Regions from separate parts of the Homo sapiens genome. Here all the other regions are linked to region 1. A link means that fine-mapping ties the variant in region 1 to the plasma level of a protein whose gene starts in the linked region. Region 1 holds a variant in brackets. A gene starts in each other region. All regions are shown on their reverse strands.

Region 1 (4,079 bases):
CAGTGGGCTGGGGCACTCAGGCACCACCTGCAACAGCACCACCTGCAACAGGGGAGGAGGTCACAGAAAGCCCCAAGGACACCAATGCTGGGCTAACCCTGTGTGATGCAGAGTGGAGGTGTCAGTTTCTGTGCGGTTCAGGGGCGCCCTGGGGATAGGGCAGGGCCAGAGCAGGGGAGGTCACTGGCCCTATGTGGGCCATCTGAGTTTTCCCTAAGGTCCCAATTCCGTGATCTTTTAGTTCCTTCCTTTACTCTGTCAAAGACACAAGAACGGATCTGTTTGCTTTGTGAAGAGGCTCAAATGAATATTCTACTTAAGCTTTCCATTACGTGAGCATTTAGTATGTGCCAGGCACTGTGCTGGGCCCTACAACTCTGCCAACAACCCTACGAAGAAGTCAGTACTGTTATTTTCCCTATGTTGGAAATGAGGAAACTGAGGCACGGAGAGGCTAAGACCACACTGCCTGCAAGTGGTACAGCCAGGGATGGCCCCAACTGAAATTTGGTTCTGAAATTTGGGTTCTTATCCACTATCCTGCACTGTCTCCAAAATGTGTCCTTAAAATATATGTGTGAGCCACATATATTTTATTTATACATATTTATTTATTTATTTATTCATATTTACGAAGTCAGGACATCTCAAAAGCCATACCTTACTCTAAATACAAAGGAAACTTGCCTTTTTCACGTAAAAACTTCCATGTAGAAATATTCGGAGGCTAGACCAGATGCGGTGGTTCATGCCACCTGTAATCCCAGCACTTTGGGAGGCCGAGGCAGGCAGATCACCTGAGGTCAGGAGTTCACGACCAGCCTGGCCAACACGGCGAAAGTCCATCTCTACTAAAAATACAAAAATTAGCCGGGTGTTGTGGTGGTCGCCTGTAATCCCAGCTACTCGGGAGGCTGAGGCAGGAGAATTGCTTGAACCTGGGAGGCAGAGGTTGCAGTGAGCCGAGATCGTGCCATTGCACTCCAGCCTGGGTGACAGGAGCGAAACTCCTTCTCAAAAAAAAAAAAAAAATTAGAAATATTCTGAGACTTTAGATAAGATAATTGATTGTTCCAAATAGGTTTCTTTATGCATTCAAAGTTGGGTCCACTGTGCTCTCTTAAGGCAAGTGTGATTTGGCTTTAGTTTCCTTGGCTTCTGTGCCTTGGCACTGATACTTGTGTAAGCTGCTGTAATTCTCATCTAGTATTAAGACAGAAGAAACACTATTCATGTGAACTTTTCCACCTTCCTTCCAGCCCCCTCCCCCAGCTTGTCAAAGAGGATTCTGGCTTTTCCCCTTCTTTCCTTATGCTGATTTGAAATATATTTCTCCTTGATGAGGCTTGAAAAATGCAAGTAAAAGTCTTATGTAACAATGTAATCCAGATCTAAATTTTAAATGATAACTGAAAATCTTCATACGTTTGGAAACTAAGAAATGCACTTGTAAATAACCCATAGGTCAAAGAAAAGATAATAATGAAAAATAAGTGCATTTTGATCTAGGTAGAGGAAAAATACTACACATCAAAATGCAATGCAGCTAAAATAGTACTTAGAGGACAATGCATAGTCTTCAATGTGTATATTGTAAAAGTACTTGGCTTACTCTGGAATTGCCTTCTGGAATTTTACTGTATTTTTTTTTTTAACTTTGATGTCCTTTGTGGTCAAACCCAGAGTTCCTGCTAGTCTGTGTCACCCAGCAGTATCATGAATTTCTCTCTCCCAGGGTCACTCAGCTGCCGCAAGGAGCAAGGCAAGTTCTATGACCATCTCCTGAGGGACTGCATCAGCTGTGCCTCCATCTGTGGACAGCACCCTAAGCAATGTGCATACTTC[T/C]GTGAGAACAAGCTCAGGAGCCCAGTGAACCTTCCACCAGAGCTCAGGAGACAGCGGAGTGGAGAAGTTGAAAACAATTCAGACAACTCGGGAAGGTACCAAGGATTGGAGCACAGAGGCTCAGAAGCAAGTCCAGGTAAGCCACCCAAGGCAAACCTGCATGGTGTCACGCAGGGTGAGAAAGCGTGGGAGGCCTGATGCCAGGCCTAGAACAGGAGAGTCCACAATGCATGAAGCCCAGAGTCCAAGCAAATGGCCAGAAGCCAGGGAGATCATCCCAGGATAAAAAAAACAATGTAGGCAACATTTCCAGAAGTCTGTGGACAAGAAGAAAGCAGGAGAAAGGACCTGCCGTGTGAGGAAGAGCCTTGCACTAGAGGCTGCCGAGGCTGTGCCAGTCATTGAAGCACAGGCACAAGTAAGCAGCAGACCCACCTGTGTGAGCACCTGAGCAGCAGCCACCACCTGCCCTCCACCAGTGCTGCAGACTCCATTTATTTCTATTATTATTTTATTTATAATTTCAACTTTTTTTTTTAGATCCGGGGGTACATGTGTAGGGTTTGTTACATGGGTATGTTGCTTGATGCTAAGGTTTGAGGTACAAATGGTCTTGTCACCCAGGTGGTGAGCATAGCACCCAATAGGTAGTTTTTCAGCCCTTGCCCTCTCTCTCTGCCTCCCCCTTCTAGTAGGCCCCAGTGTCTGTTGTTCCTGTCTTTATGTCCATCTGTATTCGACACTTAGCATTTCACTTATAAGTGAGAACATGTGGTATTTTCTGTTTCTGCATTAATTCACTTAGGATAATGGCCTCCAGTTGCATCCATGTTGCTGCAAAAAACGTATTTTTCTTTTTATGGCTGTGTAGTATTTCATTGTGTATATTTACCACATTTTCTTTATCCAACCATCGATGGGCACCCAGATTGATTCCATGTCTTTGCTATTGTGAATTGTGCTGTGATGAACATACGTGTGTATGTATCTTTTTGGTAGAACGGTTTATTTTCCTTTGGATATATACCCAGTAATGGGATTGCTGTGCTGAACGGTAACTCTGTTTTAAGTCCTCTGAGGAATCTCCAAACTGCTTTCTACAGTGGCTGAACTAATTTACATTCCACCAACAGCGTATAAGCGTTCCCTTTTCTCTGTAGCCTCACCAGCATCTGTTGTTTTTTTACTTTCTAACAATAGCCATTCTTACTGGTGTGAAATGGTCCCTCATTGTGGTTTTGATTTGCATTTCTCTGATGATCAGTGATGTTGAGCATTTTGTCATGTTTGTTGGCTGCTTGCATGTCTTCTTTTGAAAAGTGTCTGTTCATGTCTTTTGCCTACTTTTTAGTGGGGTTATTTGTTGTTTGCTTTTTGAATTGTTTAACTTCCTCATAGATTATGGATATTAGACCTTTGTTGGGTGCATAGTTTGCAAACATTTTCTCCCATTCTGTAGGTTGCCTGTTTACACTGATAGTTTATTTTGCAGTGCAGAAGCTCTTTCATTTAATTAGATCCCACTTGTCAATTTTTGTTTTTGTTGCAATTGCTTTTGAGGACTTAGTCATAAATTCTTTCCCAGGGCCAATGTCCAGGATGGTATTTTCCAGGATTTCTCTAGGATTCTTATAGTTTAGGGTCTTACATTTAAATCTGTAATCCATCTTGCATCTATGTTCCTCAGGGATATCGGCCTGTGGTTTTCTTTTTTTTGTTGTTGTGTCTTTGCCAGGTTTTGGTACCAGAGTGAAGCTGGCTTTCCAGAATGAGTTAAAGGAGACCCTCCTTGATTTTTTGGAATAGTTGCAGTAGAATTGGTACCAGCTCTTCTTTGTGCATCTGCTAGAATCTGGCTGTGAATTCATCAGATTCCATTTAGAGGCAAAAGAGGCTTCCTAAGAAAGAGAAGGGAAAGGTATCACTTAAAATGTTTAAGTAGTTCATTAACAACTGCCAGAGGGAAAAAAAATTGTAAAAAGAGAAGGCTCAGCATGGTGACTCATGCCTGTAATCCTAGCACTTTGGGAGGCAGAGGCAGGCGGATCACTTGTGGTTCGGAGTTCAAGATCAGCCGGATCAACAAGGGGAAACCCCATCTCTACCAAAAATACAAAAATTAGCTGGATCTGGTGGTGCACACCTGTAGTCCCAGCTACTTGGGAGGCTGAGGCAGGAGAATTGTTTGAACCCAAGAGGTGAAGGTTGCAGTGAGCCAAGATCGTGCCTTTGTA
Region 2 (4,079 bases), not on the chromosome of region 1:
CGTCTTTATCAGCAGCATGAAAACGAACTCATACATATCCCAAGTATTGTATGGAACATAATTATAGTAAAAATTATTTGTTTTTTATTTGAAATACAAATTTAAATGAGACCCTTGCATTTTATCTGGCAATCCTCTACTGAGTGTTAGGCACTGTGCTAGGTGCTAGAATAATGTGAATATGACATAGTTCCTGTCTTCAGAGAGAGACGTAGAAAAATGTAACATTTTTGGCTACAGATGAGCAATTAAATTCAAAATACTCTTTTCTGAGCATATCTTTCCAACCACAGGAAACAATACTTCAGAGTCATCAACAACATCGTCACCTTTGAGCATGAAGTATATTTGAGGTTTATTCATATTTTGAATTAGTCTGAAATGACACACTGAATCTCGAAGCTATCCATATCCCACTGAACCTTCCTTTTGTTGATGAGCATGCTGTCCTCAGAGAAATAAAAAATAAGCCCTAACCGCTCCCTTCCCTAAAGATACTTAGATCATTGAGGAATACCATCAAAGGGACAGGATGTTTCAGTTCACTGTGATCGGTTCTGGAGTGAAGGAAATCCAAGTGTTATTGATGCACATGAGAGGAACACCCAGCCCAAATGTGGGAGGTCAGAGAATACCTCTCAGTAGATGTGGCACCATACTCTACAATTACAAGTTTACAAAGACCCTGTAGTGTGGATTAACTGGGTATAGTTTAAATAAATAATTTAATTTAATTTAAATAAATTGATATAACCAATATATCTTCTCCAGAATATTGGAGAAATCTCTAACCAGGAATGACTAAGCACACATTGAAACACATCCAATCCTCTTCTATTGTCATCCTGTTCCTTACTGTTTGTTGGTCGTTCATTTGGCAAGTCCTTATTGACAAATTGGTATGTGACAAGTGCTCTGTTAGGCATTGAAACAAAATGAAGAACAAACCAGGCTTGTTCCCAAACCTTGTAATACTATCTAATGAGAAAAATAGGCATTATACAATCACATAAACATATAGAGAATGATAAAATTTGGTGACTTCCATGGGAGAAAGAACATAATAATATTTGTTAAAAAAGAGGACCCTCTTTCCATTACCTGCCAAGGTTGGGCACCCTGAGGATGGGACATTTGATCTGAGATCATCTCCCATTTCTAATGTAAAGGTATCTGAATGATGACAACTTTATCCTGGTAGGTAGATTCCCAAGAATGGCTTACCTCTAAGTCTAAAACACGCCTTCCTAACAGAAGTTATATCACCTTCAAAGGGGCAAGAATTGACTCTTGGGAAGATGAAAAAAACTAATTTTTTAATGTATCAAACACAGCTATACATGCAGCACATAAACACATACATAGTATATTTGTGGTATTAAATTTTCATGGAAAAAGGGGGTGGCTAAAAACAAAATTGTCTAAAAAAGATCCTTAGGGGAGCAATAACGAAAAAATGGTTGAGAAACACTGGTTCAGAGTTTTTATTCAATAGTCCCTCAAATAATACTTACTAAAGGAATGCTTTCAAGAAAGAACAGTTAGAGGTGCGGGGGATATAAGGGGTAAGAAAAGGGGCCCTTAAATGTTAGTGGGAAAGAAGACACGAAAGCAAACAAGGAAATAGAGAAAATAATTGCAAATTGTTATAAACACTGTGAAAAAAACACAAAGGACCTGAAACAAAATAATGGGGTGGAACCTCTTTGATTGCAAAGCCCTTTCTGAGAAGGGCTTTGGCTTTAAAAACGGTGGTACGCTTGCTGATTTATCTCCTAATTTGCAGATCTGGGTGAGATTACGGGAAGTCCTTGATCTGTACATTTGTATTATTTTCCTGTTCAGAAGCCTCATAACAACTTATGTGAAAGTCAAAAAGGCATATGCTTGACACCTTGACTGTGTGATTCACACCACGCTCATTAAGCTTGCCTACATTAGGAGCTGCATGCAGAACCAAAGGCTGTGTGAAGACAAGGTAGTGAAGGGGTTTCCCATATGAAAAATACAGAAAGAATTATTTGAATACTAGCAAATACACAACTTGATATTTCTAGAGAACCCAGGCACAGTCTTGGAGACATTACTCCTGAGAGACTGCAGCTGATGGAAGATGAGCCCCAACTTCTAAAAATGTATCACTACCGGGATTGAGATACAAACAGCATTTAGGAAGGTAGCCACATTCACATTTTCAGAGCCCAAAGCAAAATATGACACTAAGCTCTTCTTCCCTTTTCTGATTCTTGCAGGTCTCATCTGAGTAGCAGCTTCCTGCCCTCCTTCTTGGAGATAAGTCGGGCTTTTGGTGAGACAGACTTTCCCAACCCTCTGCCCGGCCGGTGCCCATGCTTCTGTGGCTGCTGCTGCTGATCCTGAGTGAGTAGATGGGCTATAATGGGGCCACGGCCTCAGTTCCTAAAGGTGACCAGGGAAAAACTCAAGGAGCTTCTATCTCTGCTTCTACTTGGGGTTCAGAGACAGATAGCAAGGGATGGGAAGTGAGCAGAGCTGGGTTCCCTGGACAACCAAGAGGCTCCAAATGCAACCATCAGAGCAAGCCAGATATCCTGACCTTGGTTTCTCACCCACTGCTTTTCTCACCTCATAGGAAACTTGGATTTTTCCTTCTGCCAAACCACAACTCTATATCCCACCCTCCCTCTTAAGCCTCAGACTAAATAATTTTTCAGATGAGCAGTTACTTCTAAAAACCTAGGCACGTGAAGGAAGGTTTACTGAGAAACATCACTGTTTTCTAGAAGTTTTAAGCCAAAATTTAATCAGAGATTGAAAAAGTGAGGGGAACAATAGGAGCCCAAGGAACGAAAGGAGGATAAACCATTTCTGTAAGTCCTTGTCTGCCTCTGCACTCAGAGAAGAGAAGGAGAGAATAAAGTGTGCCGTGGCCAAGTAAATAATAGCAGAGATGAGGTCAGGCCTTGGACATAAGCCATCACGTTTGTAAAATACATTATATGACATTTTCTTTGTTGTTTAGGGGCTCTGGATGATATAAAAAGGGAGCAAAGAAATGATAAGGAAAAACAAAAGAAGTGGTTGTGGTTAGGTTGTTAGAAAATGTTTCGGAGAGTGTCTGATTGTCATTTTCTGCTCCCTCACAGCTCCTGGAAGAGAACAATCAGGTAAGTTTCTCCTTCTCTCTGCCCCTCTGGTCTCTGGATATTGGTCCCCTCAGCCCACACAGCCTGCCCTAACCCTTGCAGGCACGCATCCCATCAGCAATGCTAATGCTCTGGGGTCACATCTGCTACTATATTGGGTGAACAGAGCCTCCTCCGACTTTTTCAGTCTCTAGGTTTTTTTTTTTTTTTCTCCCTACATTACCGGTATTCCTCAGACTACAGGAAGGAAACACTTGCAGAGCAAAGGACAGAGGCAAGAGGCTGATGATGAAGGAATCTCATATGTGATCTCCATATTCTCTAGTACATCTCCCTCTGAATGTCCAAGCTAGTGCTGCTATCAAAGGACATAGAAATAGATCCCATCCACGGAGGAAGATGCTACAGCAGAATCCTTATAAATCTCCAAAAAGAGCTCATGCCACTGCCACACCTCACTTCCATGCCTGTCAGTCAGTTGCAATTCCATACACAAGTCTGACTTCTCAGGCAACCCATCCTCCTCCATTTAAATTCTTTATATCCCTCCATTGTTTACTGTGTCCAACTTAAATGGAGAGTAAAGTTGCCTTCCCCATAGACTTTCAAAGCTAAGAGAGATATAAAAGTAATACAAGTGAGAAAATCTTATTCATTTTAAGTGTTAACAAGTAGGAAGTAATTTTCTGGAGTCTAGAAACTACTTCTGAGGTATATACATCCCAGGTTCACCTTTATCTGGACAGAAATGTATAGGACAAGAGAATTTCAGGATCAGCCACATTCTGAGGCCTTCGCAGTTTTTGCCCAATGGCAAATCACATCTCCTGAGCTTTTCTGAGGCTATGCCAGGAAACTGAGACCTCTCCCCTATAATACCCTTCTGCCCACCTCCAGGAAATGGATGAGGAAGAACAGATTCTTTCCCAGGCATTTCCCTAGGTTATTTCTGCT
Region 3 (4,079 bases), not on the chromosome of region 1:
TCCTACTTTCTTGAGAACTATGTGCCAAGCATTGAGCTAAGTATTTCATGCTCATCGTCTCATTTAATCCTCACTCACGAGGAAGATGTATGGTGTCACTGCACCTGTAAGATGTGCTTGCAAAAACAGAGTTAGGGAGGTTGAGAAATTTGCTCAAGATTACACAACTGAGGCAGGAGAATGGGGAACATGAGGCGTGAGAGAGCAAAGGGAATAAAAATCACTGGGAACCGGTAACCCCCCTCACCCCCGAGAGTGGCCAGGGAGAGAGAGGCTGCCTGAGGGAAGGAAGCTCGGCAGGACCCGCTGCAGACCCAGGGCCAAGGGAAGTCCCGCGGGAGGAAACGCGGGCGCGGTGGGGCTGGCTCCAGGCACGCGGGCCAAGGGCGGGAGGGTCGGACACGAAGCCACAAGGCTCCTTTCCTTCCTCCTCCTTCCCGTCTGCCTTCTTCTGCTTCTGCGGCCTGATCTCCGAGTCCCTCTGCCTGCAGGCGGCGGCAGAACGTCCGCATCTGTCCGCATCTCAGCGCTGTCCCCCAACCGAGTCGCGCCGCGTTTTCCTCTTCTGTCGGGAGAGCTCGTGCTGGGAACCGCGGGGCAGGAGGACGGCCCAAGCTACTCTCGATGTCCTTCCCCAGCCCACGCCTGCCCCAGCCACAGTTCCCCTGGTTTTCCTGAGGTTCTCCAGCTGCTCAATGATGGGCAGGTTCATCTACAGCCTGGAGCAGCCGCCTCCTCCTCCTCCTCCTCCTCCTCCTCCTCCTCCAGAAACACCCCTTTTTCCTTCTCCTCATTCTTCCTTCTCATTCTTTCTCCTCCTCACTCTTCCTTCTCCTCATTCTTCCGTCTCATTCTTTCTCCTCCTCATTCTTCCTTCTCCTCTTCCTCTTCCCCTTCTCTTTCTGTTCTTTTCTTCTTCCTCCTCCTCCTCCTTTTCTCTTTATTTTTCTCCTCCTCCTCCTCTTCTCCCTCTTCTTTCTCCTTATACTCCTCCTCTCCTCTTACTGTACTTTTTTTTCCTTCTGCTTTCTCTGCCCTCCTCTTCCTCTTCTTCTTCTTCTTCTTCTTTTTTTTTTTTTTTTTGTGGCTGGAGTGCAGTGGCGCAATCTCGGCTCACTGCAACCTCTACTTCCCAGGTTCAAGCGATTCTCCTGCCTCAGCCTCAGTAGCTGGGATTAAAGGGGTCCACCGCCACCATTCCCTGCTAATTTTTGTAATTTTAGTAGAGACAGGTTTTTGCCATGTTGGACAGTCTAGTGTCAAACTCCTGACCTCAGATGATCCATCCACCTCGGCCTCCCAAGTGTTGGGATTACAGGCATGAGTCACCGCGCCTGGTCTCTTTCTCCTTTTTTTTTTTTTAAAGAAAAATTGAAATCATGGTTTTCTAAAAATCCCTCCTAGCTCTCAGCTTCACCGAACCACGTCCTGGTCATTGACTTGCCGTGTGACTGCTGTGCTTCCCCTGTTTCCATTTCCCTCCATTTCTCCCTCCTTCCTCCCTCTGTCACCCATGCCCGGAGGAGCACGATAAGGGACCAGGCCGACCTGGGTTCCAACCCTGCCTGCTCCCTGTCCTGTTGACGCTCTAATTCCACTTGCAGCCCCACTTTCCTCATTTGCATAGTGTTCTCCCAGTAACAACAGCAGTCATACCAAGTTCTAGGGTTCTTTCGAGGATAGTGTGTATTCACCGCAGTGCATCTCTGATGCCTGGCACATCGGCTGTGCTCAAGTAATGGCAGCTATTGCATTACAGTGACTATGGAGTTAGGGGACCGCATATGGCAAAATGCTGATCACTGTTTTGAATTTGGTTTCATTCCTCTAATCTCAAATCCAGTGTTTTAAGGACATGCTAAATGCTTTGTCCTGGAGAGCTATCTTAAGGGACAAAATCGTTTTCCCAGCGTCATCTGTGACACATCCTGACAGTAGAGAGCTGCTTCCAAGAAGCAATTTGAAGTGCCATTATCAGGCAGGGACGGGGGCTCTAGGGGATTTCGGGGTCAGCAGATATGAAATGAATGATTTCATAGGGCTGTCACAGAGCTGTGGTGGGAATTTCCCATGAGACCCCGCCCCTGGCTGAGTCACCGCACTCCTGTGTTTGACCTGAAGTCCTCTCGAGCTGCAGAAGCCTGAAGACCAAGGAGTGGAAAGTTCTCCGGCAGCCCTGAGATCTCAAGGTCTGTCCATCTGGGGGAGTGGGTGGGGGCACTGAGAAGGGGTGAGATTGGAACTTTTGCTCCCTTTGCCCATTTCTAGACTTTTTCTCCTAATATGTAATAACTTCTCTTCAATAGCCCTTTAAATAAACATCAATAACTTAGCCTGAAGAGTTTTTCACTCCTTAGTTTTGTTACCATACAAACTTCACATCTCAAAACATGTCTCTGTTTAAGAAAATGTGTTAGTGAGTTGAACAGGGAGGTCTTTCCACATGTTAGTAGTTAGGTGTTCAGCTAAAGGGGGAAGAGTGATTATGTGATAGCTTCTTCTTGAACTGAATTGTCTGATGCCCCTGACAGATTCTCTTTGTAAGGAGTTTATTTCAGGGGCAATAAGTAATTGGCATTATTGCTGGTTGGTACTGCAAAGTACCTATGAAAGTCCCCAAAAGTTCTTGCTATTGTTATTTCTGCATTTTGGCAGAACATGATGGAAAATGCACCCTCAAACTTTGGCAAACCGGCACAAAGCTGTGTGTTTAATCACGCCTGCCTTGTCCTAGTGGTTTCTATGAATCTGCTACTTTTCCGTAATATTGCATCATTAATTGTTCCTGAAAAACCCTGAGTTATCCTCTTATAGAATTGTATAAGTAATGATTGCAATATAGATAATTTTGAAAGGAGAAACCACCTTTCCTTGGAAATGTTTATCTTTTGCAGAGTGACATTTGTGAGACCAGCTAATTTGATTAAAATTCTCTTGGAATCAGCTTTGCTAGTATCATACCTGTGCCAGATTTCATCATGGGAAACAGCTGTTACAACATAGTAGCCACTCTGTTGCTGGTCCTCAACTTTGAGAGGACAAGATCATTGCAGGATCCTTGTAGTAACTGCCCAGCTGGTGAGTACCCAGTTATCATGTGCATTTGATCTGCTCTGTTGGAAGTATGGTTCAGTTAGTCTAGTAGTCAGGGCTAACGAGCTCCCTTTTAAGGAAAGGAAAATGAAAATTCATTCATTTACAAATGTTTATTGGATGCTACAACCTAGCTGTGTGAACACAGCAAAGTCATTCAACCTCTTGTGCCTTGACTTTCTCATCTGGGGATAATAAGAGAACCTGTTTTATAGGATGGCTGGGAGGATCAAATGAAGGGCTTAGAACAGTGCATGGCACAAGGCAAGACTTCAATAAATGTTAGTTTTGTGTGTAGGGCTTTGTGCTCCGACTGGGGGCATAGCAGCGAGTAAGCGCGTAGTAAAGGGCTTAACAGAGTGGGGACGGTCAGTCGCATTTAAATTTTAGTGTAGGACATTGATGTCCTCCTGGATCCAGTCATATTCATCTCCTACATCAATCAAGATAATCATTTTGTTTTATTCAATAGATAAAGTATTTTCTTTCTGTTGATTTATTTGTTACAATATCTGGTTTTTTTGTTTTTTTTGTGTGTGTATGTTTTTTTTTTTTTTTTTGAGACACAGTCTCACTCTGTCGCCCAGGCTGGAGTGCAGTGGCACGATCTCAGCTCACTGCAACCTTGGCCTCCCAGGTTCAAGCAATTCTCCTGCCTCAGCCTCCCGAGTAGCTGGGATTACAGGTGTGCACCACTGCGCCTGGCTAATTTTTGTATTTTTAGTAGAGACAGGATTTCACCATGTTGGCCAAGCTGGTCTTGAACTGCTGACCTCAGGTGATCTGCCCGCTTCGGCCTCCCAAAGTGCTGTGATTACAGGCGTGAGCCACTGCACCTGGCCTGTATTTTGTTATTTCTAATTCTGTGATTACACAAAGAATAATCTTGCAAATGTATTGTTTTAGGAAGTCAATCAAACTAATGTCCACCACTGTGGCATCTAGAAAACTCATCATTCTTTTATAATCTTATTTTATTGTAAACT
Region 4 (4,079 bases), not on the chromosome of region 1:
GGTTGGTCAGAATGGGAAGGAATTATAGGCCACCTAGAAACCCATTCAGTAGGCAAGATTTGATGATCAGTGACTAGCTTTGGTCCTGGGAAAGAGTAACTTACACTTTCAAACACATACAAACCGTTTGCCTATGCAGAAAGTTAAAGTAGTATTGTTTTCAACACTTTAAGATGAGAGAGGCCATAAAACCTAGTTTCTTATAATGAATCTTTAAAAAGTACGTAAATAGCATATGTTTATTGTAAGAATACTAGAATACACAGATAAGCAAAATAAGGAAAATAAAAATCAGCTTTAATTAGATTTTTTGGATATAATTACAGTAACTCTGTGGTGCGAATTGTCTCAGACACTTTTTATTGGAGAGCAGGGGATAATGTGCAGCAGATAAAGTGCACTCTGCAGCCACTTTTTTCTTTTCTTTTCTTTTCTTTTTTTTTTTTGAGACGGAGTCTTGCTCTGTCACCCAAGCTGGAGTGCAGTGGCACGATCTCGGCTCACTGCAAGCTCTGCCTCCCGGGTTTGTACCATTCTCCTGCCTCAGCCTCCCAAACAGCTGGGACTACAGGCACCTGCCACCACGCCCGGCTAATTTTTTGTATTTTTAGTTGAGATGGGGTTTCACCGTGTTAGCCAGGATGGTCTTGATCTCCTGACCTCGTGATCCGCCCGCCTCAGCCTCCCAAAGTGCTGAGATTACAGGCGTGAGCCACCGCACCCAGCCCACTTTTTTCTTAATCATATATCCTAGACATCTTATCTTGCTATTAAATATTATTCCACAGAATTATTTTAATGGCTGTTTGGTTTTCCACAGCATTTGACACATAACTTATTTTTAACACACATCTCTCCTTGTGATATATTTTTAGTATTTTCTTTTTACATTATTATAAGCAAGGCTTTAATGACCATCACATATAAATATTAGCCTTTCTCAAAGTAAAACTATGATAATAGTGAGAATAAAATGTTAAGTATCCAATTGTTAAAAATTCAATGTTAAGTATTCAGGTAAATGTTAAGTACCTGAACAGGTAACATTGAGTCTATGAATATTTTCAGTCAGTCCCTCATTTATAAGCACCTGTGATTTTTTGGTTTAGAGTTTCATCCTGCATAAGGTTCACTGATGAGACAACATCTACTGGGACTACATCTAATCAAAGTGAGCATGATAATAGGTGTTCACATAACACGCGCTTTGCTTTGTGTGAGATAACTGTATTAGGATCAGCCTGGGGTACAAAAAGCAATGCAGATTAGAAATAGGCAATGTTGTGATTACAGATTAGAAAGATGGCAATGTTTTCAGCAATATAGTGCAAGTGTTTTGAAGTTTAGTAAAATCTCATTCTAGAAAGTCATCGAATGACTACGAAAAATTTTACTTAAGAAATATGAGCTATTGAAACAATGGCCTTATTATTTTATGAACCTTGAGAAGCAATATATCAAGATAATAGGGCACAATGTTTAAGAGCCAGACTGTGACACTGGGCTGCCTGGGTTTGAATCCCAGATCTGTTACTACTAGAAATTGATTAAGCTGATCTTGGTCATTTTACTGGCTGCTATCATCTGAATGTTTGTGTCCTGGCAAAATTCTTATGTTGATACTTAATCCTCAATGCAATAGTAATAAAAGGTACCCACCTTTTATTACATGACCTTTTAGGGGTCATGAGTGTGGAACTCTTATGAAAAGGATTAGTCTCCTTGTAAAAGAGGCTTGAGGGAGCTTGTTTGCTCCTTCCATCATGTGAAGACACATAGAGGACACCATCTATGAGAAACAGGCCCTCATCAGACACTGAATCTACTGGTGCCTTGATCTTAAACTTCCCAGCCTCTTGAACTATGAGTGATAAATTTATGTTGTTTATAAATTTCTCAGTCTAAGGTATTCTTTATAGCAGCCCCAATGGACTAAGACACTTACCTTTACTAGTGCCTCAATTTCCTTATTCATGTGAAAGGGGATAGTGCCAATTCAGAAACTTGCTGAAGGTAATAAATAACTCTGTAAGCATGAGGCACTTAGAACTGTGTCTGACTCATTGCAACCCATATGTAAATGCTAGGTATCATAATGAGGGTCAAGTTACAAAATTTCTCTGGCATTGAGAGGATCAGCTATAATTGTTTTAGCCCTTCCAGGACAAAGATAATGGTTAAACATAGTGGCACTATTCTACTTCCTTTTTTGCTAATTATACAAAACCTATTCTGAAAACCACATTTCATCGCCTGCTCAGAGTCTCCAGTTGGTGACCAAGAGTACATCTCTTTTCAAATAGCTGGATTAGGTCCTCATGCTGCTGTGGTCATTGCTGGTCATCTTTGGTGAGTTCAATAATTTGACTGAGAAGTGAGGTGGCAGCTGAATGAGGTCTACTGCTCCCAAAAGGTTGGAGGTTTTATTGGAGCCCAGGGACTGGTGGGGATGCTCAGGTCCTGCCTGCAGCTTGGGCTTCAAAGGCAGATGCAAAGAAGTAGGCTGAGGACAGTGAATTTGCAGCACATCCATTAAGCATTAAGCACAATGCTTAATGTTCAAGGTGGACCACTTTTCCATTTGCTGGTCATGAATTGCTATTTTGATATCTTAGATCTCATTGAGTAATATAATGTTCTCATAGTAAAATGTTCATAATATTAGCATTTAGCAATGCCCTTCTCCTCCATGAACACCGATTATTCAATTGTTATCTATAAGATTTGGGTTCAGCAGATGCATTGAGACCCTTTGCTAATATTCCTCTGTTTAATCGTGGACAATGAGGGAGATGACAGCTGCTGCTAGAAAATAAGATTCCTGGGTGAGTGCAGTGGCTCATACCTGTAATCCTAGCACTTTGGGAGTCCAAGGCTGGTGGATCACTTGAGGTCAGAGTTCGAGACCACCCCGGCCAACATGGTGAAACCTCATCTCTACTAAAAATACAAAAATTAGCCAGGCGTGGTGGTGGGCACCTGTAATTCCAGCTACTCGGGAAGCTGAGGCAGGAGAATTGCTTGAACCCGGGAGGTGGAGGTTGTGGTGAGCCAAGATCGCACCATTGTACTCCAGCCTGGGTGAGAGAGTAAATAAGATCCCTTTCTCTATGCTGTGTAGGCACTAAATAAATATTTGTTATTGGAATACAAAGGGCTCTAACGTGAAATATGGCCATAGGAAAGAGACTGATTTGTTGATTTCTTGGAACTCTCACAATGTATGTTTCCTGATGAGCCCTTTGTGATCGTGTTGTCATGTCTATCTACCACTTGAAAAGTCAGAGTGTGAGATAGAGTGGTGGGGATGGTGGAAGGAAAATGAAATCAAGGAGAGTCACTAAATATCCAACATGGGTATTCTCGACAATCCCTTTAGTCAAGCATTGGGTTTGCAACTTGCCTTTTGACTACAATGAATGACAGTTAGATGTGTGCTCGAGGGAGATTGAATTGTTAGTAATAAGAGATTAGGGAAATAGAAAAGAAAGGGAAAATGGAAAGAAGTTTTTGAGCAATTTACCAGAGTAATATAAATTTATAAATTATGAGGGCAAATGCTGTGTGCTAATCTCTGGCTTTTGATCTCCTCACAGATGCAGTCACTGAACAGGCAGGTGAGTCCTCCTTGTCTTTGTTGTTCTTGGTCTCTGGCATATCAGTCACCCCACTACCCCAGGATTCTATAGAGGTGGCTCTGGAAAGCCTGTGAAGATGTCCTAATATTACTGCCCTCTAGGCTGACATGTTCTGAGGTCACGCAGCCTGTTTCCAACACCACTTGCATGTCTGGGTGACCAGGTACCACCTAGCCTTCTCAAGACCCCACATGCTTGCCTCTTCCTTAAAAGCCTGGCTTTAAGAAGGGCAATAACATGCAGATTGAAGAAAAGAACAATTTGGAGAGAATTGTTTTCCTGCCCATAGGACTGTAATGCCTCTTTATTGTCTGGCTGAATGCTGAATGTTTTTACAGCTCTGAAAACAGCTATTTATAGAGGAATGTGTCAGAACTACAAACTTCTGCAGGGTCAGAATAAACATGTGTCCTCATTGCTTCTCTAGCTCTAGCTCAGGAA
Region 5 (4,000 bases), not on the chromosome of region 1:
CTGAAAAAAATAAGAAGTTGATATTATGGAAGTATAGCATAGAATAGCATCTATCAGAGACTGAGGAGGGAATGAGGAGGGAAGAGAGGGAAAGATTGGTCAACAGGTACAAGGTGCCAATTCGATAGGAGGAATAAGGTTTGGTGTTTTATTGCACAGTAGGGTAACTATGGTTACTAGTAAGGTATTATATATTACAAAATAGCTAGGAAAGAGGCTTTTGAATGTTCTCACCACATAGAAATGAAAACTGCACGAGACAATGGATATGCCAACCACCCTGATTTGATCATCACTGTACAACATATATATGTATTATATTGCAATGTCAAACTGTGCCCCATAAATATGTACAATTACAATGTGTCAATTAAAACATTAAAAAAACCAACAGATTAAAAGAAAAAGAGAGAGATGAAACAGCAGAGTGTATGCAAAAACAGCTTTACACCCTGGATTTAAAGGGCTCTACATTCTCATTCAGGAGATTTTTTTGCATTGGTCCTGAAACTTTACACTAAACAAGCTTATCCCCACACAGGCTTTCCTAAGCCAATAAATAAAGCTATGGAATACCTATTCGTTTTCAGCACTTTCGCTGTTAGCCTGGTTACCAACATTGCTCCCTTTTCCCTCTGGTTTTGCGTATCACTGAATAGTTTCTTTTCTCAGTCATACTCATTGAGCTGGATACCTGGACTTAGACATCATTGCCTGACAGCATCTTTCCCCTAATAGGTTACTTTCCACACATTCTAGTTATTCTTAATCCTAGACACTCACGGATTTAAGAAATGTTGAAAATTAAGATAGCTTATTCTCCTCCAATCCCTAATCTAGGCTTCACTTGCCTAGAACTGGTATCCCTAATGTGCTAAAGGTAGCAATGGGAGAGATTATAGGTGCCCTGATTTTGAGGGAAAAGAGGGGCAATTTTACAAATGCCAGAGTTAGTACTAATGGTGAACCCTTCTCAAGTGCCCTGAAGCTAATTTGCATATACTTCTTTTCTGTATTTCATTTTCAAATATCCCCCAGATTGTAATTTGCCGTGATTTTATTTTTCAGTGATTTCATGCTCATTTACTGGTACACTGAAAGTTTGAATATCAAAGCGTATATCTGTATGAATAGGTTGACCCTGTACATAAGTCATCATATGCAGCAAGGGTCAGACACTACACATAACCGGGGTGACAGCCCCATCAGTCCCTGATTTAATGACATGTTTGCATAATATGACTATACTAGAGAAAGTTTGCATAGTGGGACTATATTGCTGAGCAAGAAGAATGTGCCAATTAGAAACAATCCAGGAGACATCCCTATCAAAGGTGAAAAGTATTGTAGATGTATCAAAGATGAATTTCAGCAGGACCATAACCTGATGAGACTCATCAAAGTAGGAAACTGCCTTTAGAAAACTTCCTTTGAAATACCTGAATTCTTGAAAAAGTCCCTCAAATATTGATGTGTACTATCTGCAGCTTGTGGAACTGAATCAAACTATATTTAAAAAGGAGCATCTTTAATTTTCTCAGACTTCATAGAAAAGGAAATGGAGACTGGTCACTAGAGGGTTCTTCTTCCTTCTACTTCTGCTGAAGGGTAACTTCCGATATCAACTTCCTCAAACCTCTGATGAGCTGCTGCTGCTCGACTCTGAGGTGCATTCTTTTTTTGATGAGAGGCATCTCTAGGTACCATCCCTGACCTGGTCCTCATGCTGCCGAGGCTGTTGCTGTTGATCTGTGGTGAGTTGGGCAACTCAGAGCAGGGCATGGGATGCAATCATGCTTGGGCTCTGCTTCCTGAAGGGCTGTAAGGACTTCTTAGGACTAAGGTTCTGTCAGGTAATGCTCAGGGGTGCTCAGATCTCCACTTCCACGGAGGGCTCAGAGTCAGGCAAAAAGTTGTAGATATTTCAAAAAGCCAGAGTTTTCAAGAAAACTATCATTTCAGTTTTTATCTCATAGGAAGTGTTCACTGTCTGTCTTCCTTTCCATCAATAATTGTCTTTGTTCTCAGTGTTTTCAACAGCTGCCAAAAGAAAAATCTGTATAATAAATAGGCCTCTGAATTCCTTGCCCTTCTTACTACCAACGTTATTTCCTTTTATCCCTCTCTGACTCCCCATTCCCACAGTCAAACCTTAGAACTTATCATCACTCCTTTGTTTTCAGCATACATCCCCCACCCCCACTAAGTTGTGTTTCTAGCTCACTTTCTCCTGCACTCTATTTCCAACATGACTTCAATTACCCCAGGGCTACTTTTCCATTATCAGTAACTACACTTCATGTGCTCACTTCTCATGGTGCTCAGCTCAGATTCTGCAGCTCACCACCACAACACTCCCTCGAGCACACCTTCATCTCTCTTCCCCCATAGCACTCTCCTGGTTTACACGCCCTTCTGCATGCTTCACTCCTGGACATAAACAGCTGAATGGGATTTTTTTTTAAATGCACAACCCTGATGACTTATCCCCTTTTAAGTGTAGGACCCCCAAATCTCAGGTAGCCAACAGCAATGCCAGGCAATTATCCTACATGTTCACAGTCCATGTTGCTCCATTATCACTATTGCATACCTTATCCTGTCACCTCATACTTCTCTGTTCACTCTCATTGTGTAATCTTGCTTCATATTTCATTGAGAAAATAAAAGCAGTCAGAAGAAAACTCTCTCATCTTTCTGTTGCTGTTGACCTACTCACCTCTGCATTCACATACACTGCCTTCTCTTCCCCTACCACGAATATATTGCCCCTCATCTTGTTGATGACAAGACTCTCCACTTGTGCATTAGGCCCATGACCCTCTTACTTTCTCAAAAAGTTTGCTCCATCATCAATATGTTTCTTCATTCTAAATTATTCCCATAAGTATACAAACATGCTACAGTATCTTTTATTAAAAACAGCTTTATTGAAATATTATTCACATATAATACAATTCACCATTTAAGTTATGCAATCCAATGGTTTTTTATGACAATCACTGAGTGGTGCAACTATCACCACAATCAATTTCAGAATGTTTTCATCACCCAAGAAAGAACGCCATACCCACTAGCAGGCATCCCCAATTTTTTTTCCAACGCCTCACCTATCCTCACCCCTCTATTTTCTGGCCACATGCAATCATTATCTACTTTCTGTCTCTCTATATTTGTCTATTCTGGACACACACCCCATATCTAACTGTAATTATATATCCCTTGAGCAACATTTCCCTCATTCCTCCTTCCCCACTATTACCCAAGCTTCTTGTAACCATGATTCTGCACCGTCCTTCTATGAGATCAACGTTTTCAGATTCCACATGAGTGAGATAATGCAGTACTTGTCATCCTGTGCCTACCTCATTTCATTTAACATAATATCCTTCAGGCTCACCCATGTTGTTGTAAATGATAGGATTTCATTATTTTTTATGTCTGAATAGTATTCCATCATGTATGTATATTGCATTTTCTTTATCCATTAATTTTTTGATGAACATCTACATTGATGCTGTCTTGGCTATCGTGAATAGTGCTGCAATAAATGTGGGAGTGCAGATATCTCTTTAACACACTGCTTTAATTTCCTCTGGATACATGTCCAGTAGTGGGATGGCTGAACCATATGGTAGTTCCATTTTTTATATTTTAAGAGCCTCCATACTGTCTTCCATAATGGCTGTTCTAATTTACAGTCCCACCTACAGCATGTGAGGATTCTCTTTTCTCGACATCTTTGACAATACTAGTTATCTTTGGTCTTTTTGATTATAGTCATTTTCATAGGTATGGGGTAATATTTCATTGTGGTTTTGATTTGCATTTTTCTGTTGATTAGTGATATTGGGCATTTTTTCATATACCTGTTGGCCATTTGCATTTCTTCTTTTGAGAATTAGACCATTGTTAATAGGGTTGTTTTCTCACTATTGAGTTGTTTGAGTTTCTTATATATTCTGGATATTAACTTTTTCTCAGATGTATTGACTGCAAG
Region 6 (4,079 bases), not on the chromosome of region 1:
CACTCTTTAACCTTTCCAATCATAAGAACCAAAATCTCTTAAAAGAGATGAGGTTGTTACACAGGTAATTATAATGCTTAGGATGGGAATACTGGTACAAAAATGAGAAATGGACAAACAACAGAAGCACAGTAGCTTGAATGGCTGATAGGTAGACCTGGTATTTCATGGGGCTCCAGTTAAGTGACCTACATGATGCTGCTGCTGTGGCCCTGAATTGGCAGGACTGGTGAAGAATTTGATTTTCAGTTGATAATATCCTCTTTGAAATTTAGAAATAGGTGAGAAGTCAGGGACGTACTCTGCTCTTAGAAAAAGTGTGAATATACATTTGTTCAAAGGGAGTTAATATGCAGAAAAAGAAAAGAGATGAAGATAATGGTCTGGAGAAAGGTTTAAGGGTCAGGAGACAGTAAAATGTCAGGAAAGCAAAAAGTTGTAATAAACTAATATGTGCTGTATTCCAGACACCTCAATAAGCTGGATGTCCATAGAAACAATTGGACACCCAGCTTGTTAGCTTAAATGCTGGCTCCATAAAATCAAGTCTGTACAGGAGGCTTATTACTGATATTTAGTAGTAACGACTAACATCCAACTTTCTTTGCTTAGTTTCATCTGTGCTCAGGGCAGCTCAGTGAGGTGGAAGGCCAGTTAATCACTAGTTTCATTTTACAGATGAAGAAACTGAAGATCAGGGAGCTAAATGACTTGCCAAAAGTCACCCAGTTATTGAGGTCTGCACACAGTAAACGTCTTATAAACTAGGAATGCACGGTACCGTGGAGATAATTAGAAACTTAGACCCATCCTGTAGCCAAGAGACGCTAATCTTAATTATAATCTTTCTTTAAAATCAAGCCAATCTGGAGGAAAAAAAGATATAATAAACGGTGAATGAGACCTTTGCGGACGTCCACACCATTACAGTAGGTTAATAACAAGAAGAAAACAATAGTTTTAATCCATGTCTCAAAAATAACTACGGATGGTTAATGTTTAGGATCTCTACCAATATCACATTAGAGTTCAGAAAATCTGAGACCCATGCTTGGGAACCAGGTCTTACTCTTATTTAGGGAAGGGAGCCGAGGTTCTGCCGCTTTTGCTGGGCAAGAGCGCGGTTCGGGTGTACAGAAACAGCCTCACGTGGCTAGCTGGTGCCTCATGCAGTGGGTAGGTTTCCCGTGGCGAGCGGTAGCGCTGACCGCCGGCCAGAGAGCGATGAGCACCTGCAGAATCCTGGGGGCGGGGAGCCCGGCAGGAGACCGCGAGCACCCGCACGCCGCCAGCCACACCGGGCCGACCAGACAGCGCCCCTCTGTGGCGCAGCCTCCAATTCTGGAGGTCCCAGCTCCCGGAGGGGCCAGTGGGGACAATCAGGACCAGGCGGTTTATTGCAGTGGTCCCTCAAAGCTAGCGGGAGGCGGACACGCGTCGAGCACTGCCCCCACCGTCTCGCTTTTGGCCCCCTGCTTTGCATCGCGGCACAGAAACTTTCCCTGCCCGGGACGCGTCCCCACCTCCGTGCTCCCCCTCCCAGCTCACCGAGGACCCCCGGTGCGACGAGAGCCAAGAAAACCCCGAGCAGGCCCGCGGCGCCCATGCCACGGCCGAAGCCCCCGCGGCGGGATGCGTTCCGAGACCCGCGAGCGTCCGGCAGCTCTGGGAGGGCAAGGCTGGAGCAGCAAGCAGCTGTGAGCCAGGAGAGGCGGGCCCTTAAATAGTGTCCGGCACACGTGCTAGTTCTGAGCGCACACCTGCAGGCGGCCTGGGGGCTGACGCGGCGCCGGTGAGGGTGGGACAAGCGGGAGGGACGGCCCGGCACGAGGTGGGCGGGGAGCTCTGAGCCACTCTTTGGCTCAGACTCACCCCTCGTTGCGGTGGCTTCCCCACTTTTTTGACCACGCAACCCACTACACTCACTTGTTTCTCTTACTAGAACTTAAACAAAACTTTCACAAGTTAGTACTCACCCTTAGTAATCTACAATGTTCGTCCTCTGTGCCATGCTGTGTTATGCTAGACTAGGCTAGGCTATCCTATTCTTATTAGAAATCCACCAAACTCATTTCAAAACCTATTAGTGGATTCATCTCCCAGTTTGAAAAAGCAGTGTAAGTTTACTTAGGGAATTTAGGAACAGCAGCCACTTCTGCTCTGTTCTTTATTTTGAAGTAATCTCTACAGAAAAGTTTCAAGAGTACTGCAGAGAATTCCCATATACTTGTCACCCAGATTCTCTGCATGTTAACATTTTGCTGTATTTTCTTTACCATTCTCTATTCTTTCTCTATAGACATATATGTACATATATGTGATTATATAATTATAATTATATAATTATTACTTTGGAACCATCTAGCATTTATTCCTATTCTAAATGGTTCACTAAGGACTTTCTGTTCCATAACTAGAGTGCAATGATCAAAAATAAGAACTTAACATTGACACAAGACTATAAGCTACCATCTGTATTTAAATTTTGACAATCATCTCAATAACCTGTGTTATGGTAAAAACAATAACAACAATAGAAACCAACCTTTGTTTTTCCTGGTCCAGAATCATTTCAGGATCATGTATTGTGTTTGATCATTATGCCTTCCCCCCACCCCCAGTTCTTTATTCTGGAAAAATGTCCTCAGCATTTTTGGTATTGCATGACCTTTACATTTTTGACGAATACACCACAATTATTTTTGGAGAATGACTTTTAAGTCCGTTATCTATTATAATAACAAATTACCCTGAAGGTAGTGGTGTAAAGCAAGAATAAACATTTATGATCTCACAGTTTCTGTGGGTCGGTCAGGTGGTTCTGGCTTGGGATCGCTCAGGAGATTGCAGTTAAGACACCAGCTGGAGGTGCAGTCATCTGAAGGGTTAACTGGGATAGGCGAATCCACATCTAAGATGGCTCACTTACCAGCCTTTGGCTGGAAGCTTCATTCTTCACCACGTGGATTTTGCCATAGGGCTCGCTGCTTGTGTGTTGAGTGTCCTCGTGACATGCCAGCTAGCGTCTCTGAGAACAAGAAAGAAGAAGCCATAATGTCCTTTGTGACCTGTCCTCAGAAATCACAATATGTTAACTCCAGAATATCCAATTGATTGTACAGATCAGCCCTTTTCAGTGTAGGAGGGCAGTATACGTGGATGGTAATGTCAGGAGACAGGATCACACCCCACAATTTGGATTTGTCTATCATTTCTTCATGATAGATTCAGGTTATTGAATCTAATTATTTGACAGGAATACCAGAAAGGATGTCTTATCCTTACGGGGAGGCATATGTTGTCTATTTGTCCTATTACTGGTGGTGGTAACTTTGATCACTTAGTTAAGATGGTGCCTGCCATGTTTCTTAGTGTAGACTCAGTATTTTTCCCTTTGTAATTAATAAGTATTTTATAGGGAGATACTTTAAAACTATGTAAATTCCTCATTTTTTCATCAAATTTTTACCCACAAATTTTAGCGTCTATTGATGATCCTTTCTTGAATCAATTTTTACTATGATGGTTGTCAAAGGGTGTTTTTTCCTAATTTAATAATTACTTCTATATTCATCTGTTGGCATTTTACTGTAAATAAAAGTTTTCCCTTCTCTATTTATTTATTCATTTATCTATATCAGCATAAACTATATCAATATGAATTTTATTTATTTACTCAATGGGTCATAATTCATGGCTACCATTATTTATTTTGATGCTTAAATTCTCCCTGATCGGGCCAGTGGGAGCCCTCAAAATAGTTCCTATGTCATTTTGACTTGTTCTTATTGTTCTTTGAGCACTTCCTTACTTTCTGGCACACACACAAAAAAAAATGCTCCAGACTCACCTCTAGACCTGACACTGGAATTTGCTGTTTCTCCAAGGAATGCTGGTTCTTTCTGGCAGAGAATGGCATTTAGATGCCAGAATTGGATGCTAAGTGTGTTCATTTTTATTGGAGTATCATTGTTTCCGCACCCTCTCAGCAGACAGAGCAAGGATATGTATTATATATATATATGTATATCCATTCCCATATCTATATTTATATATGTCATGAATTCACAGTGATTCTT
Region 7 (4,079 bases), not on the chromosome of region 1:
TGAGTGCAGACTAGAAGCTTGGTTTTGGCATTTTACCTGGCATCTACATCATGTTCACCTGTGTATTGGATCTGAAAACTGGGACATTCTACAGTTTGTGGAACTCCTGCAAATGTTCCTGCAATTGATTTACTCACACACTGCCCACACCCACCCCCTGTACACCACAGGTTCAAGTATTTGACTCTTCCCACCCCACCCACCCCTGCCACCAGCTGCTCTATACCCTCCCACTCACTCTCAGGGCCCCTGAGGTCCCCAGGGAGTCACCACCACATACCACTCTCTGTATCTGGGGGAAGGTCTAGGTTGTTGGAAACTTTAATCAAGCAAGGACAGTTAACAGCTGCAGAGGCACCTTAGGAAACAGTGAGCTTCAAAAAGGAAATACTTGTAGGATCTCTTGTGATGACCTTTGACGACTTTTCTGAAAATGACCCGTCATTCTCTGCCATGGAAAATAACAGTGATCACAGGCAGCCTTCAGCCCACAGAAGGCTTCCTCCTCCAGGCAGGCTCTGACATAGCCGCTCACCTCACAGATGCCCTAACAGACTGCAAAGTCCTGGGAACATGCATATCCATGCACACACATGCACACGTGCCTCTCTACAAGTACATTTTTGAGGTCACAGCTTTGCCTCAGTGGCCACTTCCTCTAGGGCTGGCTGGGCGGAGCTATTGGCAGAGCTCTAGGGTCCCTGGCAGTGTCCTGCCACACACCACCAATCATCCGAGCTGTTGGCATGTGGTGAGGACCTTTTCCCCCTTCCTTTTTCCTCCCCACAGCTGCAGGAGGGGGATTCTGCGGGGCGGATGTCACTTTGCTAGGGGCGGGTTCTTCCCACCCCCACACTACATCTTGTTCTAGCTCCTTCCTATCCCGGATGTAGGCCATTTTGGGGTTCCTAGTAGGGGTCACATCCCGGTAAAAGAACATTAGGGAGCACCTTTGGGCACCCCTGCTCAGCAGCCCCCTTTCCCCCAACTGGTTCCCTCTCTCCTCCATCAGCCAGGCCCCCACCACCTATGAGGGCCTCGCGGTCCCTGGGTCCTCCGCCACAAATGCCCCCTTTTTCCTTGGGGCTGGGTGGGAAGGGACAGCTTTGGGACTTTTTAAAGAAAGAACTTTGCTAGGAAAGTAAGAGACGAACCAAAACCAAACCAAGAAAATGTCAAGACCTCCGCTGGTCCGGAATCTGCGCTCGGCCTCTGGCTCTGTTCTGCTCCTCTGCCTTGACTTCACCTAGGAAGCTGCAGCCTTCTTAAGCCCTCTGCAACTCCCTTGCTCACCTGCTCCCTGGCTCCCCATGAGGGTGCATGGGGGGCAGTGCTGCCACTTGCCTTTCCAGAGGTGCTGCAGCCATGGCTCTTCCTTACCTTCACCTCTGGCCCAGGCCTGTTCCTGAACCCCCAGTTACTGGAACCCCCAGGATGATGAGAAGCGAGGGATGCAAACCAGGAACCCCCAGTCTCATGGGGAGAACGGAGCCTCACCCTGGAGCTGGGGAGATCGTCTGGGTCAGTGCAGCTCCAGCTACACATCATAAGCCCCAGTGGACAAGGCAGCCAGGAGGAGGGTGGGGCAGATCAGGGCAGATAACCAGAAGGACCGAGTTTGGGGCCCAGCATGGCCCATATGGGTTTAAGATGCATGGAGAGGAAGCACAGGGAGGACATGGGGACAGGCCCATCCCCTACCCCTGTGTTCTGGACCTCAGCGTCCCCTCCGTGGCCCCTCTGGCCCTGGCCCAGGGATGCCTTCTGCTTCATTGAGCCCATCTGTTTGAGACTTGCTAACACCTTCCTCTTTTGTGACTGGAAGTCACAGGGCCAATTGCTAAGCCGTGCAGTCACAGAGGGAACACAGAGCCTAGTTGTAAACGGACAGAGACGAGAGGGGCAAGGGAGGACAGTGGATGACAGGGAAGACGAGTGGGGGCAGAGCTGCTCAGGACCATGGCTGAGGCCATCACCTATGCAGATCTGAGGTTTGTGAAGGCTCCCCTGAAGAAGAGCATCTCCAGCCGGTTAGGACAGGGTAAGGGGGATGAGGCCTCCCCTTGATCCTGCATCCCCACTTCCCGCCCCACAGATCCCATTCCCAAATCCCACCTTGGTCCCTTTTCTCTTCTCTCTAGACCCAGGGGCTGATGATGATGGGGAAATCACCTACGAGAATGTTCAAGTGCCCGCAGTCCTAGGGGTGCCCTCAAGCTTGGCTTCTTCTGTACTAGGGGACAAAGCAGGTCTGGAGAGCCTGGGGGATGTGTGTTTGTTGGGGGGCTGTGTCTTGAGCTGGGGAGTCCACAATGTTTTTGTTGTTGTTCTTGAGACAGGGTCTTGTTCTGTCACTCAGGCTGGAGTGCAGTGGTGTGATCATGGCTCACTGCAGCCTCGACCTCCTGGGCTCAAGTGATCCTCCTGCCCTGGCCTCCCAAAGTGTTGGGATTGCAGGCGTGCGCCCCCATGCCATGGCCCTCAGTATTCTTGAGAGCACAATACCCTGGGGAAAGGAGGAGGGCGGTTCTTAGGAAACAGAAGAATAGGAACAGGATAAATGGGAGCCAGGGGAGGAAGAAAGATTCCTCCCGCAAGGTGGAGACCCCTTTCGGGGAGATAAGGGCTGCGGAGGGATAGGGCAGCCCTGTGGGGGATGAGTTCTAATGGGAAACGGGGAGCCATGGGAGGGAAAAGAGGTGATGGGAGATGGATGAGAGCAAAGGGGGAGAGGGTTTGGAGCCGACAGATAAGGGGCCTCTGAGGAAACGATAAAGGGAGAACTAGGAGAGATGAGGGGGTCCCGGGAAAAGATACAGTGAGACCCAGGAGGAAGCCGAGAGAGTCCCGGGCAGAGGAGGAACTCAGGAGAGTGACACTGTGTCCCAGAGCAGCTCTAGCAGGCAACGTAGGGCAGACTGGAGTTTCCCAGTGGCGAGGGCGAAGCGGGTGCGCAGGAGGAGAAGGGGCAACACTCGGGGCTTCCGGTCTCACACTGGATGCTCCCCTCGACAGCGGTCAAGTCGGAGCAGCCAACTGCGTCCTGGAGAGCCGTGACGTCACCAGCTGTCGGGCGGATTCTCCCCTGTGAGTGTGCCTGTGCGGGGCAGCCGCGGGGCCAAGTGCTCGCGCCTGTCCCGGCTGCGGATGGCGCTGGGCCCCGCGGGGTGCAGCTCCTTCCGGGATAAACCCGGGCGCAGTCCTTCCGACGCCCGGGCTGCCGTGCCACATTCACCTTCATCCGGTGCGCCTGAATCCGACGTGCACCGCCCCCCTGCGGATGGTCCCAATTCACCTACCTGCCCCCCTTCCCCTCTCTCCGTCTGATATTTCCTTCCCCTTCTCCCAGGTAACGCCCCCGAGTCCCCACCAGCACTGATTCTGGAACACCCTCTCCCCTACCTGCGAAACACCCCGCTACCCGACAGAAACCACCATGCTTGCCCCCTCAGCTCTGCACCGCCCTCCTCTTAGGGATGCCTTCCCCAGGGGTCTCCCCCACGGACCTGTCCCTTCCTCTCTACATTCTTTACGGGGGCTGACTGCCCTCATCCATCCCACTGTCCCCCTAAGGCCGCACAACCTGCCTGCGATACCTCCTGCTCGGCCTGCTCCTCACCTGCCTGCTGTTAGGAGTGACCGCCATCTGCCTGGGAGTGCGCTGTGAGTAAGGCTGTCCCTACTTCCCACTTACACCGAACGACTTTCGTCCCGACTCTCGCCCCAAAGCTGATCTTCCTCAGCAGGGATCATAGTCACTACCACCACCTCCTTAGCTTTGGGTTTGGTTTCCAGCCAGGGCTGTTGTCTTCCTGAATTGTCCTCACCTAATCCAGTACCTCCTTACGCTTTAGTCAGTCAAATCTTGTATTTCAGCCTGTGATGCAAAAAGTTGCAAGAAGCAGAAAAAGGGCTGATGCTGCAGTCTCAGGGCACTAGGGCAGGGCTGGAGAAGACATCCACCAAATCTCTGTGGCCAAACAGATCTGCAGGTGTCTCAGCAGCTCCAGCAGACGAACAGGGTTCTGGAAGTCACTAACAGCAGCCTGAGGCAGCAGCTCCGCCTCAAGATAACGCAG

Alleles and levels. Positions count from the first base shown, and alleles are read on the strand shown. Strength reflects both the effect of a copy and how common the allele is.
In carriers of allele C in region 1, the plasma level of the protein whose gene starts at base 2,069 in region 2 tends to be higher than with T alone (weak association).
As copies of T replace C in region 1, the plasma level of the protein whose gene starts at base 2,134 in region 3 goes down (moderate association).
In carriers of allele C in region 1, the plasma level of the protein whose gene starts at base 2,260 in region 4 tends to be higher than with T alone (moderate association).
With allele C in place of T in region 1, the plasma level of the protein whose gene starts at base 1,641 in region 5 is higher (moderate association).
For the plasma level of the protein whose gene starts at base 1,697 in region 6, allele C in region 1 goes with a higher level than allele T (moderate association).
For the plasma level of the protein whose gene starts at base 1,850 in region 7, allele T in region 1 goes with a lower level than allele C (weak association).

Evidence for each region. PIP is the posterior inclusion probability: the model's chance that the variant is causal. The UK Biobank Pharma Proteomics Project read protein levels with antibody pairs (Olink). The fine-mapping took linkage between variants from a reference panel, not from the people measured, so its PIPs are less certain.
Region 2: it holds the start of FCRL3, and the variant in region 1 is fine-mapped to the plasma level of the FCRL3 protein (UK Biobank, PIP above 0.99).
Region 3: TNFRSF9 starts here. The variant in region 1 is fine-mapped to the plasma level of the TNFRSF9 protein (UK Biobank, PIP above 0.99).
Region 4: FCRL2 starts here. The variant in region 1 is fine-mapped to the plasma level of the FCRL2 protein (UK Biobank, PIP above 0.99).
Region 5: it holds the start of FCRL1, and the variant in region 1 is fine-mapped to the plasma level of the FCRL1 protein (UK Biobank, PIP above 0.99).
Region 6: CR2 starts here. The variant in region 1 is fine-mapped to the plasma level of the CR2 protein (UK Biobank, PIP above 0.99).
Region 7: CD72 starts here. The variant in region 1 is fine-mapped to the plasma level of the CD72 protein (UK Biobank, PIP above 0.99).

The regions. Positions count from the first base shown.
Region 1 is chr17:16,946,640-16,950,718 of GRCh38, reverse strand. TNFRSF13B (TNF receptor superfamily member 13B) reads left to right here. Exons shown (of 5, transcript NM_012452.3): 3 at 1,736-1,981. Among named protein-coding and RNA genes, the nearest start is that of TNFRSF13B, 23 kb to the left of the region's middle. The variant T/C (reference allele first, on the strand shown) is at 1,846.
Region 2 is chr1:157,698,759-157,702,837 of GRCh38, reverse strand. It overlaps FCRL3 (Fc receptor like 3), which reads left to right and starts at 2,069. Exons shown (of 15, transcript NM_052939.4): 1 at 2,069-2,176; 2 at 2,253-2,379; 3 at 3,126-3,146. The coding sequence starts at 2,349.
Region 3 is chr1:7,938,894-7,942,972 of GRCh38, reverse strand. TNFRSF9 (TNF receptor superfamily member 9) reads left to right here and starts at 2,134. Exons shown (of 8, transcript NM_001561.6): 1 at 2,134-2,189; 2 at 2,895-3,078. The coding sequence starts at 2,979. RefSeq lists a silencer at 291-430.
Region 4 is chr1:157,775,313-157,779,391 of GRCh38, reverse strand. FCRL2 (Fc receptor like 2) reads left to right here and starts at 2,260. Exons shown (of 12, transcript NM_030764.4): 1 at 2,260-2,349; 2 at 3,597-3,617. The coding sequence starts at 2,319.
Region 5 is chr1:157,817,761-157,821,760 of GRCh38, reverse strand. It overlaps FCRL1 (Fc receptor like 1), which reads left to right and starts at 1,641. Exons shown (of 11, transcript NM_052938.5): 1 at 1,641-1,754. The coding sequence starts at 1,724.
Region 6 is chr1:207,451,946-207,456,024 of GRCh38, reverse strand. CR2 (complement C3d receptor 2) reads right to left here and starts at 1,697. Exons shown (of 20, transcript NM_001006658.3): 1 at 1,549-1,697. The coding sequence starts at 1,606. RefSeq lists silencers at 1,139-1,248, 1,629-1,858.
Region 7 is chr9:35,616,184-35,620,262 of GRCh38, reverse strand. It overlaps CD72 (CD72 molecule), which reads left to right and starts at 1,850. Exons shown (of 9, transcript NM_001782.3): 1 at 1,850-2,041; 2 at 2,142-2,249; 3 at 3,016-3,087; 4 at 3,574-3,663; 5 at 3,985-4,079. The coding sequence starts at 1,960. RefSeq lists enhancers at 2,846-2,995, 3,435-4,079.